2 separate regions of the Homo sapiens genome follow, and region 1 is linked to region 2. Evidence: fine-mapped expression QTL. Tissue or cell type: spleen. Region 2 holds a variant in brackets; the other region holds the start of a gene. All regions are shown on one strand. Distances are between the middles of the regions.

Evidence for each region. PIP is the estimated chance that this variant, and not a neighbour inherited with it, causes the effect.
Region 1: it holds the start of SLC5A4, and the variant in region 2 is fine-mapped to the expression of SLC5A4 in spleen (GTEx, PIP above 0.99).

Annotation. Positions count from the first base shown.
Region 1 is chr22:32,251,053-32,259,052 of GRCh38, forward strand. It overlaps SLC5A4 (solute carrier family 5 member 4), which reads right to left and starts at 4,295. Exons shown (of 15, transcript NM_014227.3): 1 at 4,143-4,295; 2 at 3,090-3,161; 3 at 718-822. The coding sequence starts at 4,277. All of the region lies in intron 2 of SLC5A4-AS1 (SLC5A4 antisense RNA 1), which reads left to right.
Region 2 is chr22:32,347,777-32,355,997 of GRCh38, forward strand. It overlaps a transcript of SLC5A4 not described here and a transcript of RFPL3 not described here. Among named protein-coding and RNA genes, the nearest start is that of RFPL3, 6.0 kb to the right of the region's middle. The variant A/G (reference allele first, on the strand shown) is at 3,724.

The sequences.
Region 1 (8,000 bases), 97 kb before region 2:
CCATGACACATGTATACCTATGTAACAAACCTGCAGGTTCTGCACATGTATCCCAGAACTTAAAATTGACAAAGAAGACAACAACAAACAAATAAGCAAAAAAAAAAAAAAAAAAAAAAAAAAACCAAAGAGGAGAACATTCTATACAGACACCCAGAAAAACCTGGGATATGACTTCCATTAATATACCTGGATGCTATGGTTTCAACGTGTACCACCAAGTTCATGTGTTGGAAACTTAATCCCCAATGCAACAGTATTGAGAGGTTAGACCATTAAGGGGTGATTAGGTTATGAGGGCTCTTCCCTCATAAACAGATGGATCCCATTATTGAGATAATGGGTTAGTTATAGTAGGAGTGGGTTCCTGATTTTAAAAAATGAGTTTCACCCTCTCCTCCCCTTTTCTCTTCTGTCTCTGTCTCTGTCTCTTTCTCTCTCTCTCTCATCCTCCATCCCTCTCTCTCTCTCTCTCTCTCTCTCGTGCCCTATTGCCCTTCCACCTTCCACCTTCCACCATGGGACGATGAAGCAAGAAGCCCTTGCCAGATGTGGGTCCCTCAGCCCTTGCACTTCCCAGCCTTCAGAGCTGTCAGAGATACATTTCTGTTCTTTATAAATTATCCAGCCTGTGATATTCTGTCATAGCAGCATAAAACATACTAAGACACTGGATATGGTTTTGATTTGAAGGAAAAAGCCTATGATGTCACTTACAGTCCATTCAAATGTTACGGTGGCGACTCCTGAAGCTGCTCCTGTCCCAGCCAGCCCCACATAGTGGTTGCTGCCGATGTTACTGGCAAAGAGAGAGGCGCCCATCTGGAATGCAAGAGAACAGACTAGGGTTGGAGTTAAAAGATCCAAATCAGACTTCTTGAAAATAGACAGATGTAGCTGGGCGTGGTGGCTCACGCCTGTAATCCCAGCACTTTGGGAGGCTGAGGCGGGTGGATCACAAGGTCAGGAGATCAAGACCATCCTGGCTAACACGGTGAGACCCCATCTTTACTCAAAATACAAAAAAATCAGCCGGGCGTGGTGGTGGGCGCCTGTAGTCCCTGCTGCTCTGGAGGCTGAGGCAGGAGAATGGCATGAACCCAGGGGGTGGAGCCTGCAGTGAGCGGAGATCGCGCCACTGCACTCCAGCCTGGGTGACAGAGCAAGACTCTGTCTCAAAAAAAAAAAAAAAAAGAAAATAGACAGATGCTGAGATGTTTCAGTCACTACTCCTCAGAGCAGGAGTCAAGCAAACAATGGCCCCTGGGCTAATCCAGCCCACAGTCAGTTTCTGAATGGCCCACGAGCCAAGAATGTTTTTTTACATTTTTGCATTGTTAAATAATGGTAAACAATCTAAGTAAGCATAATATTTTGTGAAATGTGAAATTGTAAACTTGTGAAATTGTATGATTCAAATTTCATTGTCTGGAACACAGCCGTGCTCATTGGTTTTCCATATGGACTTGGGCTGCTTTTTGTCCTACAACAGCGGGGTTCTGTGGCTGCAATAGACTATATGTCTAGAAAACTCTAAAGTATTTACAATCTGGCCTTTTACAGAAAAGCTCGTTGGCCCCTGTCTTGGGGGAGCATTGGTCAATCTACTAAAATGCTCTGAGTTGAGCCTGTCCTTGGCCAAGCACTGCCAGATCTCCCATCAGCTCTTCTCCCTTTAATCATATGCAAAGACCCCAAGCTGGCTAGGAGGGAGTTTCTCTCCATCCTCCCAGCCACAGGACACTCTTTTCATTCATCCCCTCGCCATTACAGTGTCTGCTGTTCTAAAGACCCAGAGACCAAGAGAGGTCTCTTGAGTGGACGTAGATGAGCACCAGTCCTAGCAGAAGAGAATTGGGGTGTGGCTCTTCCCACTTTTTAAGGCCTCTGTAAAATCACTTTTTCTGCTCAGCTACATGGGGCCAGAGGATGGGATTGAGCTGGTTTTTGGCTTCAAGATCGCTTGAGCCTCCTTGCATGTTTCACTAAACAGTCCTAAAAATGCAATGTCTGATTGGATGTCCCAAATAAAATTCATTTCAAACTTCCAGTTGTTCTGCTTCAGTCACCCCAGCCAGGACAGTTGCCCATCTCCACTTCCCCTCATACCATTTAGAAAATGAGTCAGATCTGTGAAGGAAGCATTTGCTAAGCACCCACTGTATAATGTGATGCTGGGCTGACACTCTCCAGGTGCAGAGGGGAAGATACAGCCTCTGCTGCAGTGGGACCCTGGCTGAGGGGGTCACACATCAAAACCCCACAAGAACACCCACTGGGCAAGAATCAAGAGGCATCAGCATTAGCACCATCACAGGGAACACAACCAATAACTGCATGGGACATAGGGACCCATGGAGAGAGCCGGGAGGCTCCTCAGATGAGAAAGGGCTGAGGTGAGGCATTGAAAGAGGACAGCAGACAAGGGGAGGCCAATCCTAACAAGAGGGCCAGCATCAGCTCAGGACTGGCAACAAAGCAGGAATGCGCAGAGCTTGTAAGAAGCCAGGAGAAGACTCTTGATAAGGAGCAGAAGAAAAGAATATAAGGTGGGGCTGAGCTGGGGTCCTTCAGTGCCAGACTGAACCGGCTGTCATAATAGGTGACATATTGTAATGTCCTGGAATTACAGAGAGGAGCCATGAAGTCGGGGATTTAGGAAAGGAGCCCCAGCGAGTAGGCAACCAATGTACATCAGAAATGATCAACATTCCCAATGTTGTCTACATTCACTTTTTTTTTTTTGAGATGGAGTTTCATTCTTGTTGCCCAGGCTGGAGTGCAGTGGTGTGATCTAGGCTCACTGCAACCTCTGCCTCCCAGGTTCAAGTGATTATCCTGCCTCAGCCTCCTGAGTAGCTGGGATTACAGGCATACACACCACCACGTCCAGCTAATTTTTGTATTTTTAGTAGAGATGGTTTCACCATGTTAGTCAGGCTGGTCTCGAACTCCTGACCTCAGATGATCTGCCAGCCTTGGCCTCCCAAAGTGCTGGGATTACAGGCGTGAGACACCGCACCCAGCCTACATTCAGTTTTAAGCACACACACAGGAAATTTATCTCCAGAAAACTTCGATCCACTTACCGGCCACCAGGCCATATCACGACCAGCGAGGAAGAAGCCTCCTATAGTACCTCGGTTGGTCTTCAGCATCGCCTGAGCAGAAGGGAAGACAGGTGAGGGTCAAGCCCCAGCAAGTGCACCCAGACACCCCAGAGGCTCTGGCCAGGGTGCTGAGAGGGGTGACTTCAGCACTCCTACAGAGAGAAACATTTCGCTGGAAAGTGTTCTATAGCATCAAATTTTAAAGGACTTCAAAAACAGTCGCTTTGTAAAAACCCAGGGCTGGAAGAACTTAAAAAAATCATAATCCTTAACTTCTATCTTAACTGCTCTGATTATTCTCACTTATGAAAACCATGTGAGGTATCATTGAGCCATGCTTGCAATAAAATTTGCAGTCTCGGCCGGGCACGGTGGCTCACGCCTGTAATTCCAGCACTTTGGAGGGCCGAGGCGGGTGGATCACAAGGTCAAGAGATCGAGACCATCCTGGCCAACATGGTGAAACCCCGTCTCTACTAAAAATACAAAAAGTTAGCCGGGCGTGGTGGCGCATGCCTGTAGTCCCAGCTACTTGGGAGGCTGAGGCAGGAGAATGGCGTGAACCCAGGAGGCGGAGCTTGCAGTGAGCCAAGCAAGCGCCACTGCACTCCAGCCTGGACGACAGAGCAAGACTCCGTCTCAAAAAAAAAAAAAATTTGCAGTCTCAAATTTATTAAAATAAAAAAATTCAACATAAATGAAGAGTCCAACTCACTAAATCAGAAAGTGAGCAAACAACAAAAGAAAGCGAAAGAAATGCGATAATAAAAATACACTCTTTGTCCATTATGCCAGGTGTTGGGGATGCATAGTAAATCTGAAGGTCCCGGTGCTGGCTGTGTGCACACGATGGGGTTATTAGGAGAATACATTAGTTCATTGTAAGCGTTATTTATGCAACACACAAGAAAATGATTCTGATAACACAATGACATTTGTGAAAAGCTTTGTCACAACCACACCCCTTCCCCCCTTAAGATACCCCCTCCTAAACCTTGTGCCCACCCTAAAAGCCACTGGGATTCCACCTACCCACAGCCCAACAGCCATCACCACCAGAAAATAGATGACAATGACTGAGATGTCAGCAGCATTTCGGATGTGGTCAGACAATGGAGGTGGCTCTGGGGTCTCAGCTATGGTGCTGGGGCTAACCGTACTGGCCATGGCTGCAGGCAGTGCTATACCCATTCCACGCATGAGCCATCTTTATATAAGTTCTGGGTTAATGATCAGCCTCAGGCAGGTGGGGCGAGATATCAGAGCCAGCTCCTGGATATGGAGACCTTTAAACCTCTTCTCCAAAGCTGTGGCACCCCAGCCCTCCACCAGTGAGTGCTAGCCTAGGTAGAGTGTGAGAATGAGGGATGCAGGGCCAGAAATGAGGGGAGAATTTGAGGTGGAGCATGGGGCGTTCTCTGAGTGCAAAGACAGGGTCTTTAAAGAGATTTGCCCAGGTGGAGGGGGGATTTGAGAGAAATGAAGACAGACAAGGAGGGGAGAAGGACAGACTAGAAGGTACCAGAAACCAGCCAGGAGGGACCGAATGCAATGGTCCTTCAGAGAACAGATACAGTTTCTGACCAATGAGCTATATCCCTTGACAGTGAAGTGAATTATGCCTTTCGTGGATTCCAAAGTCCCACATTTCTCTGAAGTGGGTTTCATGTGCCACAAAAAGACATTGGTGGCCTGTATAGGAAAGGAAGTGGCTCTTCAAGCACCATATGTGGTGAGTTGAGGGCAGAGCTGTGGAGAGCGCTGGGTCAGAGGGTTGTACAAAGAGTGAATCAACCTGGAAGCATGTGATGGGGATCATGAGGACTCAGGAAACAAGACTCCTGGACTACAGCCAAGAAGAAGTTAGAAGTAAAGCCTATGCGGTGGCTGACACCTGTAATCCCAGCACTTTGGGAGGCCAAGGAGAGAGCATCACTTGAGGCCAGGAGTTCAAGACCAGCTTGGGCAACATAGGGAGTCTTTGTCTCTATAAAAATTAGCTGAGTGTGGTGATGCACACGTATGGTCCCAGCTACTTGGGAGGCTGAAGAGGGAGGATCACCTGTGACTGGGAGGTCAAAGCTATAGTGAGCCATGATCACGCCGCTGCACTCTAGCCTGGGCAACTGAGCAAGATCCTGTCTCAAAAACAAACAAAAAAAACAACAACAAAAAAACAAAACCAAAAACACACATGAAAAAACGGAAAGCCCAGAAATTCTTCTTTTATACTTCATTTTTTATTGTGGCAAAGCATACATAGCATAAAATTTACCATTTTAATCCCTTTTAAGTGTACAATTCATTGGCATTAAGTACATTTACAGTGTTATGCAGCCATTACCACTATCCATTTCCAGAACTTTTTCATCATCTCCAAACAGAAGTATGTACCCACTAAAAACTAACTCCCCATCCCTCCCTCTCTCCAGGCCCTGGTAACCTCTGTTATTCTTTCTTACTATATAAATTTGCCTATTCTAGGTACCTCATACAAATGAAATCATACAATATTTTCCTCTTTGGTTTATTTCACTTAGTATGACATTTTCAAGGTTCATCCATATTGTAGCATGTATCAGAATTTCCTTCCTTTTTAAGGCTGAATAATATTCCAATACTCATATATACCACATTTTGTTTATCCATTCAACTGTTGATGGGCATTCAGGTTCTTTCTATACTTGGCTATTATAAATAATGCTGCTGAGAACACTGGTGTGCAAGGATCTGTTTGAATCCCTACTTTCAATTCTTTTGAGTCTATATGTAGAAGTGGAATTGCATGTGATAATTCTGTGTTTAACTTTTTGTAGAACTGCCAAACTGTTGTTCACAGCAGCTGCACTATTTTACATTCTTTCCACAGTGCATAGGAGAGTTAATTTCTCCATATCCTCTTCAATACTTGTCATTTATGTTTTAATTATAGACAGGCTAGTAGGTATCAAGTGGGTATCACAATATAGTTTTGATTTACACTTCTAACACAATCACTAGTAGTGTTGATTTTTTCATGTGCTTATAGCCATTTGTGCATCTTCTTGGAGAGAGATATATTCAACTTCTTCATCCATTTAAAAATTATGTTGTATTCTTTTTTACACTGCTCCTTGTGGAGCAGGACTACCTCATTGGCAGTGTACCCAGAATAGCCTTATGTTGTATTTTTGTTGCTGTTGAATTGTAGAATTTCCTTTTTATTTCTCAGAGACAGGGTCTCATTCTGTCACCCAGGCTGGAGTGCAGTGAGGTAAGCATGGCTCAGTGCAGCCTCAACCTCCTGGGCTCAAGTGATCCTCCCATCTCAGCCTCCACCATAGCTGGGACCACAGGCACATGCCACCCATGCCTGGCTAACTTCATTTTTTTAGAGGTGGGGGTCTTACCATGTTGTCCAGGCTGGTCTTGAACACCTGGGCTCAAGTAATTCCTTGTCTCAGCCTCTCAAAGTGCTGGGATTACAGGCATGAGCCACTGAACCCAGCAAGGTTTTCTTTTTTTTTTAATTTTTTTTTTTGAGACAGAGTTTCACTCTTGTTGCCCAGGCTGGAGTGCAATGGCACAATCTTGGCTCACTGCAACCTCCATTTCCTGGGTTCAAGCGATTCTCCTGCCTCAGCCTCCCGAGTAGCTGGGATTACAGAAACACACCACCATGCCCGGCTATTTTTTGTATTTTTAGCAGAGATGGATGGGGTTTCACCATATTGACCAGGCTGGTCTTGAACTCCTGACCGCAGGTAATTCTCCCGCCTTGGCCTCCCAAAGTGCTGGGATTACAGGTGTGAGCCACCTCGCCCAGCTAAGGTTTTCTTTATGTATTCTTTATTTTATTTGTGAGACAGAGTCTTGCTCTGTTGCCCAGGCTGGAGGGTGGTGGTACAATCTCCACTCACTGCAGCCCCCACCTCGCAGGTTCAAGTGATTCTTCTCCTGCCTCAGCCTCCCGAGTTGCTGGGATTACAGGCATGCACCACCATTTCCAGCTAATTTTTGTATTTTTAGTGGAGATGGGGTTGTGTCATGTTGGCCAGGCTGGTCCTGAACTCCTGATCTCATGTCATCTGTGAATAGAGATGATCTTACTTCTTTTCCAATTAGAATGCCTTTTAATTATTTCTATTTCTTACCCACTTATTCTGGCTGGGACTTCCAATGCTATGTTGAATAGAGGAAGTATGGTTGATTCCAAAATATAAAATAACCCCCCACAACTCAATGGCAAAAACAAAAAAACTAATAAGCCAATTAAAATGGGCTAAAGACTTAGACATTTCTCAAAAAAACACAAACCAATAGCCAAGAGGTATATGAAAAATTGTTCAACGTCACTAATCGTCGGGAAAATGCAGATCAAAACCAGTATGAAATATCCCCTCACACCTGTCAGGATAGCTATTATAAAAAAAAGAAAAAAAAGACAAGTATCAAGGATGTGGAGAAATTGGAACCCTTGTACACTGTTGTTGAGGGTGCAAAATGGTGCAGCTCCTATGGAAAACGGTATGAAGCTTCTTCAAAAAGTTAAAAATTGCAAGTGATCTAGCAATTCCATTTCTGGGCATGTATCCAAAAAAATTGAAATTGGCATCGCAAAAAGATATATCTGCACACCCATGTTCATAAGTACTATTCACAAAAGATACAGAAACAACCTAATGTCCATCAGTGGATGCATGGATAAAGACTATGTGGTATATGCATCCATGGAATATTATTCAGCCTTTGAAAGGCAGAATATTCTACAATATGCAACAATGTGCATGAACCTTGAGGACATTATGCTCAGTGAAATAACCTGTCACAGGAGGTCAAATATTGCGTAATTCCACTTATATGAGGTACCCCAAATGGTCAAATACATAGAATTCGTGAGTGGAATGGTAG
Region 2 (8,221 bases):
GCACACCAACATGGTACATGTATACACATGTAACAAACCTGCATGTTGTGCACATGTACCCTAAAACTTAAAGTATAATAATAATAAAATTAAAAAAAGAAAATGAACTCATAACTATAAAATTACCCACAAAAAAAAAATCAATGCCTATTAAAAAACGGTTCAATTTAAAGAACAGAATTCCAGTTCTCAGCTCCAACACTGATCAGCTTCGACAAATCTGTTCCCCTCTCTGGACCTTGTTTTTTGGATACTTCACATGGGGATAATAACAGCATTGACGGCTGGGTTGTGGTGAGAATTAAGGAAGAGAGTCTGCATAGTAAATCCTCCATAAACATGGGCTTCTGTGACTTAGGGTGAGCTCCTGGAGGACAGGGAGGTGTCCCGTTTTTTCCAGGACACCTCCAGGGCCCCACCCCAGGACTTCGCTCTGTGCCAGACACGCAGTAGAAACACAGATTGCTGAAGGAACTGAGTCTCCATTTCTGTGGCTACTGGCCAAAGACCCAGAGAGCCAAGGCAGGCTTCCAGAATGCCCTCCCCACCCAGGCCAACTCTCCTGTGTGTATCCATCTCATTTCCTGGGTAGGTGAGGGCAGAGCAGCAGCCCAGGCCTGGCCTTCTGTGCTGAGTCTGGTGGGGGCCAGCAGCAGCTGCTCCTCCAGGGGAGTGCCTCCCAGTGGAGGCCAGGAAGGAGGGGAGAGCTGGGGGTGGTGGTGTTACCAGAAAAGGGTCCCGATCCAGACCCCAGAGAGAGCTCTTGGATTTCTCAAAAGAAAGAACTCAATATGAAACCAAATTTTATTTTTACGTTAGTACATCTTTAATGTTAAAGCTACTTTTTAATAATAAAATTTTATGAATCTATCCAGTTTTAATTAATGACTATAAGGTAAGATTTTCGTAACTATTTATAACTCTTTATAACATTTTTTCTTGTTAAAGAACTGATCAATGTTCCAAAAAACCCTATTATTTTGACATATGGGCCCAGATTCTGGCTCTGTTTCAGTGCCTTCTGTTTTAATATTTAATTTATGGAAGAACTAAATAATACCCTTTTCATTTTGGTCAACACGCTCAGACACACAATTCTTTACAAAGTTAAGTTTCATAAATGTCCCATAACTTGCTTAAATTTTATTTTCTTTCAGCTAAAAATAATACTTAAAATTTCTAAGTTTAGACAAAACTCTTTGTTGTTGTTGTTTTTTTAAGACAGAGTCTTGCTCTGTCGCCAGGCTGGACTGCAGTGGTGCGATTCGGCTCACTGCAACCTCTGCCTCCCAGGTTCAAGTGATTTCCCTGCCTCAGCCTCCCGAGTAGCTGGGATTACAGGCGTGTGTTACCAGCCTGGCTAATTTTTTGTGTTTTTAGTAGAGACAGGGTTTCACCATTTTAGCCAGGATAGTCTCGATCTCCTGACCTCATGATCCACCCACCTTGGCCTCCCAAGGTGCTGGGATTACAGGCGTGAGCCACTGCGCCCGGCCTTCCCACGCCTTTTTTAAAAAATCAAAAACAGGTAATATTTCTTTTTAGTATAAGCAGTTTTAATTACGTACCAGGTGCAGAGTCTAGGATACAAGACAGAACTGCAGATAAAGTCAACTCTTTCTAGCATAGCTAGGAGGCATGGCTAACTCCACCTGTCCCAGGGCCTTACATAGAAATCTAACAGCTCCAAACCACATAATCTGAACAATTTTCTAAAGTCAAAGAAGTGGTCTATGACATTAAAGCACTTAGCAAATTTAACCTCTGACTTAATTTACACCAAATGTCTAAATTTTGAAGACATTTTCATTTTACCAATAACTTTTAAAAGCCTTTATTCCCCAAAGATTACTGAAATCACATGAACTAAAAGGCATTAGAGCTTCTATTTTTCTTAAGAAGTATTTGAGAGCTTTCATTCTCTTTAAAGCCAGTTAATTAGAACTCCTTTATACAAACATCACACATACAGCACTTCTAGACAAGATTGAGCAGTTCTAAGTTTTTCTTTCCCATATTATGGCTTTCTGACTTGTCCTATATTTCTCTCTTTTTCTAAATAGTCATTCTACTTTAGGACAAGAATTTGTAATACAAAATCCTCCCTCCCATAAAATCTCTTTCCTTCATAACCTTCTTTACCATAAATACACCTTCTTATCCGCAACTTTCTTTAGCTCTCTTTCCCCAACTAATTTCTGATGCCCGCCCTCAACAAAAAGGTCAGCTAAAGCAAGGCAAAACAAAGCAGAGCCTTCCCCAGGTTTTGAGAGGGACCTGTCTGCTTACACTTCTTGGGGGTCCATGAGGAAAACAGAGGCTCCTCCTAAAATGGGGTCTCTGGCACCTTCTGTTTTTCCCAAGGACTCCCAGGCTGCCAGAAATTACCTTAGCTCCTCTCATGTGGCCATCAAGAGTGACAGCAAGACAAAGACTACCGAAATAATTCAGTCAACTGAGAAGAAAAACTTAATACTGCCCCCATTGTAAAGATGGATACGCGGAAGTGCCACGCAGTTTAAAAATTCATGTACACATACAGTTAGGCTCCAAAGCTCACTCAACCATCCTGTAAAAGTCTGCTAACACTACGCCCAGTCACTGATGCACTTGGTATGGTAGCTCATGGCCCCCTTAGAGCTTAGAACCTGGGTTTCATGTCCTCATCTACAGCTATATAATTTAACAATTTTCCTCTGAATTTGTTGGCTTCTACCCCTATATATCTCAAATTGTATTAATATTACTCAATCTTAAAGGAGACTGTGATGCCTTTAGTCTGTAGAAACATTAATCTGTAAACAAATGACTACATGAGGTTAACGGTATTCAAATTTTTTCTATATGCTTTAAAACACTAAGGCTATGTATTGAGAAACACACCTAAGAAACTGCAACCGATCTACTCTGGACAAAAATTTAGACACGTCTTCAAAATAAGCTATATAGTGGTACTTAGGCATATTTTTACACATATCAACAGTATTTTACATATTCATGACCTTAAAAATAATTTTAAAAGTGTAAAAATTATAGACCTTATATATTTGTTGGCTTGAAAAAAATGATACAATATATATTGTTTCCTTAAAGCAGTCAATACAATGCATAAATTTCTAGAGAAATCAGTAAAAAAAAAAAAAGTTCATAACAAAGGTAGTAACATTAGGAATAAAAGAGGGCTCAACACTGCAGGTTCTTAAAGGCAAAAGTTAGTGAAGCATTGTTTTTGGTTGTGAATCTTGCCCTAAAAACATTATAATTCCACATGATCCTCCCCTTCCTTTTCCTGTTGCAACGATGTGATGAACCAAATTTGCTTATGCAGATGACAATACTCTCAGAAAATGGTGGCAGAGAAATAAAATGAAGGGAATATGGTTCTCTTAATGATCTCATACACTGGAACTTATTACCTCCATGCCTCTTGCCTATCTCCAGACTAATATGGGAGAGAGAGAAAATGGCTGTTTGCAACCAATATTTTATTTGACGCTTCATTTTTTGATTCCCCAAATAACTACTTACAACGAATTAACAGGATATGAAAGCACAGCTACTCAAGAATCTAAATAATTATCCAACTGATTTTTTCCTCATCTCTAAAACAATAACGGACCGATCATTTTTAAAATACAACACACTGGGCCGGCGAGGTGGCTCACGCCTGTAATCCAAGCACTCTGAGAGGCTGAGATGGGAAGATCACAAGGTCAGGAGTTC[A/G]ATACCAGCCTGGCCAACATGGCGAAACCCCATCTCTACTAAAAATACAAAAATTAGCCGGGCACAGCAGTATTCGCTTGTAATCCCAGCTACTCAAGAGGCTGAGGCAGGAGAATTGCTTGAACCTGGGAGACAGAGGTTGCAATGAGCAGAGATCACCACTGCACTCCAGCCTGGGCAACAGAGCAAGATTCCGTCGGGGCGGGGGTGGGGGGCGTGGGGGGAGGGTGGGGGCGGTGGGGGGAGGGCGGGGGGGGGGTGGGCGGGTGGAATACAATGACAAGTCGTCTATTTTTAACTCAGTTTTGGACTGTTGTTTGTTAAGGCCATTGCTTGTGATAAAGAAAACAAAGGGAGGAGGAGGAGAAACAAGAAAGGACACAAGAAATAGAAGCAGCAGCATAAGAAAATGAACAGGAACAAGAAAATGATGATAAGCAGAAGAAAAACCAGGCTGGAAAAAAAGAAAAAGAACAGGTAAGAGAATCAAGGAGACCTATTATACATTTTGTCCCCTTCCTGATTCATGAAATTTAAAAAAGTCCAAGAAAATGTGGCACATATGCACCATGGAATACTACACAGCCATAAAAAATGATGAGTTCATGGCCTTTGTAAGGACATGGATGAAGCTGGAAACCATCATTCTCAGCAAACTATCACAAGGACAAAAAACCAAACATCGTTATGTTCTCACTCATAGGTGGGAATTGAACAATGAGAACACTTGTACACAGGAAGGGGGACATCACATACCAGGGCCTGTTGTGGGATGGGGGGAGGGGGGAGGGATAGCATTAGGAGATATACCTAATGCAAATGACGAGTTAATGGGTGCAGCACACCAACATGGCACATGGATACATATGTAACAAACATGCACGTTGTGCTCATGTACCCCAGAAATTAAAAAAAAAAAAAGTCCAAGACTACCCTGACAAAAAACCAAGCAAAATGATACACAAATAGTTACCCCCCAAACTTCTGTTAATAACATAATGGTGCCACTCACACCTGACTCAGGTGCCAGCAGGAGGAGGGCGCCCTCCAGATTCTGCAGGAGATGCGGGGAAGACTCCTCCTTCCCCTGGCTGCACCTCCACCGCTGTCACAGAGGCCCACAGCTTCCTACCCACCCCAGGCCAGGCAGGGCTGCCCCCCAACGCTCCGACCTGCCTTCCCGGCCCCCAAACTTGCTGCTGCTGCTGCCACAACTAGCACCGATGCTAATACAACTACTACTGCTGTCACCCTCAACGCACAGGCCCACCCTACAAGGCTCCTAACACCTGACCACTGCACTGCCTGTGCCCTGGCGGCAGCCAGCCGCCATCCTACCGCTCTGGTGCTCTTCAGTTTTCATTGCCGCCCTCCTACCACTCCAGCGCTGAGTCTTTAGTCTCCATGGCCGCCACCAACCACAGCGAGGCGAGCGGTGGTGCCACAAGCTCCAGCCTCCAGCAGGCGGCTCCTCCTCCTGGCATGAAACAACTGGGCAGGCAAAGCCAAGAAAGCCTAGAACAGGATGCAGAGAGTGGTAGCGTTAGAGCCTCACCTTGGCATGCTGGCCACTGGATGGCAGAGGCCGGTTTCAGCGAAGGCACTCACGCCCACCCTCCAAAGTCCAGCCTCTCCTTTTGGCCCAAGTTGGCCAGGAACTAGGGCCTGGAGTGGGGACTGGAGACACCACAGTGCCCGGGCTTCCTACTCTACTAGAACCGCTGGGCCCACCCTGGCTGCGTTCCTCGGGAAGCAGGAGCAGCAAAAACTGAACCCCAGCCAGCCCTCCCAACCCTAGTGCTGGTTCCCGTTCCTGACGCCTCCACCCACGGGGCCCTATCACCCCGTAGTGTCAGCTACTGCGTGCCCGGGGGTCCCAGGCAGTTTCCGCAACACATAGAGGGCGCGGGCCTGGGAACCACGGCTGGTCTAGGTGACGGATTGTGCTCAGGATCCCCGCGGAAACGCTGTGCATCCGCCGCGCTCCAGCAGGAGGAGATGGCCCTCTAGAGTCTGGAGTCCGGGGAGACGAGGACCGCTCCTCTGACCACCCGTCACTGACACCACCAGCACCAGGGGGGCAGCGCAGCCCCCAACAGCACCCCTAACCCGCCGCCGGCAGTGTAGCCCCCAGATAGCGCCTCCAACACCTCACCCCCAACCACCGGCAGTGTAGCATCCAATGGCGACCCCAACCTGCCCTTGCTTCGGACACTGCAGCACCCAATGGCGCCCAGAACCCGCCCCCTGCCGCGGGCAGTGCAGCCCGGGATAGCGCCCCCAATCCGCTCCCTGCCGTACACAGTGTAGCCACGAATAGTGCCCCCAACCAGACCCCTGCTGGGGGCAGTAATGCCCTGATATGGCACCCAAACCGCCCCCCAACTGCGGGAAGTGCAACCCCGGATAGTGCCCCAACCTGCTCCCCACTGGGAGCAGCAACCCAGGGAGACGCCCCAACTCACTCCCTGCCTCCGGCAGTACAGCCACAGATAGCGCACCCAACCCACCCCCTGCGCGGGCAAGGTAGCCCCCGATAGCGCACCCAACCCGCCCCGCCGGAACCAATGTGGCCCCAGGTAGCACACCCACCAGCTCCCTGGCACGCAGTACAGACCTCTGATAGCACCCAACCCGCCCCCTCCCAAAACGGGCAGTGGATACGTCCCTCAATAGCGCCCCCAACCAGCCTCCCACCCCCTCTACACGGGCAGTCTGGCCCCCAGTAGCACTCCCAATAAATCCTGCTATCTCTGTCTCAGTGTAGGCCCCAGAAAGCGCCCTCAACACCCCCCTCCCTGCTGCCAACAGTGTAGCACCCTGTAATGAGCCTAACCCGTCCCCCACCACAGCACTGCAGCCCCAGATAGTGCTGCCAACCTGCTCCCTGCTGTGGGCAGTGCAGCTATGGATAATGCCCCCAGCCAGCTTCTAGACGCAGGCAATGATGCCCTGGATATAACACGTCCCGCCCACCGCAGGCAGAGTAGCACCCGATAGCGCCCCCAACCCGTGCCTGACAAGGGCAATGCAACACCCGATAGTTCTTCCAACTCGCCCGCCGGCCACGGCCACTGCATCCCCAGATAGTGCCCCCAGAACTCCCCACTGCCGCTAGCAGTACAGCTTGGGATAGTGCTCCAACCCACCCCCAGCCACGGGCAGCGCACACCCGATAGCACCCCCAACCCACTCCCCTCTGTGGGCAGTGAGGCCCCAGATACCACATCCAACCAGCCTCCTAACACGGGCAGTAACGCCCTGGATAGGGCCTCCAACCCACCCCACCACGCCACGCCACAGGCAGTACGGCCTGGGATGGCGAACTTTTCCCACCACCATTTTACCATTCTGGCTGCGCTCTAGTCTCCCTGGCCCGCACCAACGGCAGCAGCGAGGTGAGCCACGGCAGGCTCCAGCCTCCACTGTGCTAATGAAGTTGCTCCTCCTCCTTTTCCTCTAAGCTTCCAGACTCCAGTGTGCTCAGGAAGTGACTCGTTTTCTTTTTCCTCTAAGCCAGTACTAACCAGCTACACAAGCTGACGCAGGAGAGCTTGGAATGACAAAACTCCCCCCACTTGGCATCATTTATATATGAGAATTTATGCAAATGAAGTTCCTGGGCTACATGTTCTGATTGGATGAGGAAAACCTCTAGGCCTACTCTGATTGGACTTTGTTATCATGTTCTGATTGGTTGTCCTAAGACTTGCTCTCATCCAATCAGAACATGCAAATAAAGCCCAATCAGAGTAGATCTAGAGGTTTTTCTTCTCATCCAATCAGAATATGTAGTCCAAGAACCTCATTTGCATAACCTCGGTAAGGGGAAGTCTCAGTTCCAGGCTCTTCTAGGCTATGTTCTCTGTCTCCACACCTTCCTCTCAGACAGCAGCTGGAGCCCCAGAACCTGGGAGCCTCACAGAGAAAGTCCTGATGTGGGACCTGGTTTTCCACCCGAGACCCAGGATCCAATAAAGAAGTGTTTCCATAAATGATGCATCCTCCAAAGAAGGCCAGTGACTTTCTGTGCCAAGTACCTGACAGAATTGCCATTTCCTAGAGCTGCCAGGCAGCCCTAGGTGCACAGGTCACCTGTGCATGTGTCAGAGACCAAATCCCATCAATATTGAGGCCTTGGTTAAGACAGGTACTTGCTTTTAGTCGTGAAAAGATGCCTGGCTTTGGCAGGAGAATCGCTTGAACCTGGGAGGCAGAGGTTGCAGTGAGCCAAGATTGTGCCACTACACTCCAGCCTGGTGACACAGCGAGACTTTGTCTCAAAAAAAAAAAAAAAAAAAGAAAGAAAAGAAAAGATGGCTGGCTTCAACACTGAGAAAACCAACTCTCCTTGAGCAAATGCTTTGCATATTCTCATAGAAATAAGGGAACACCTATTACCCTCCTTGCACTGCTTCCTGCACAGCTGGGATACTACCTTTCACAAGCATCCTGAGCCACCTGCTGGCCTTTTGTGTGTGTTTCCTTCCTGGCTTCC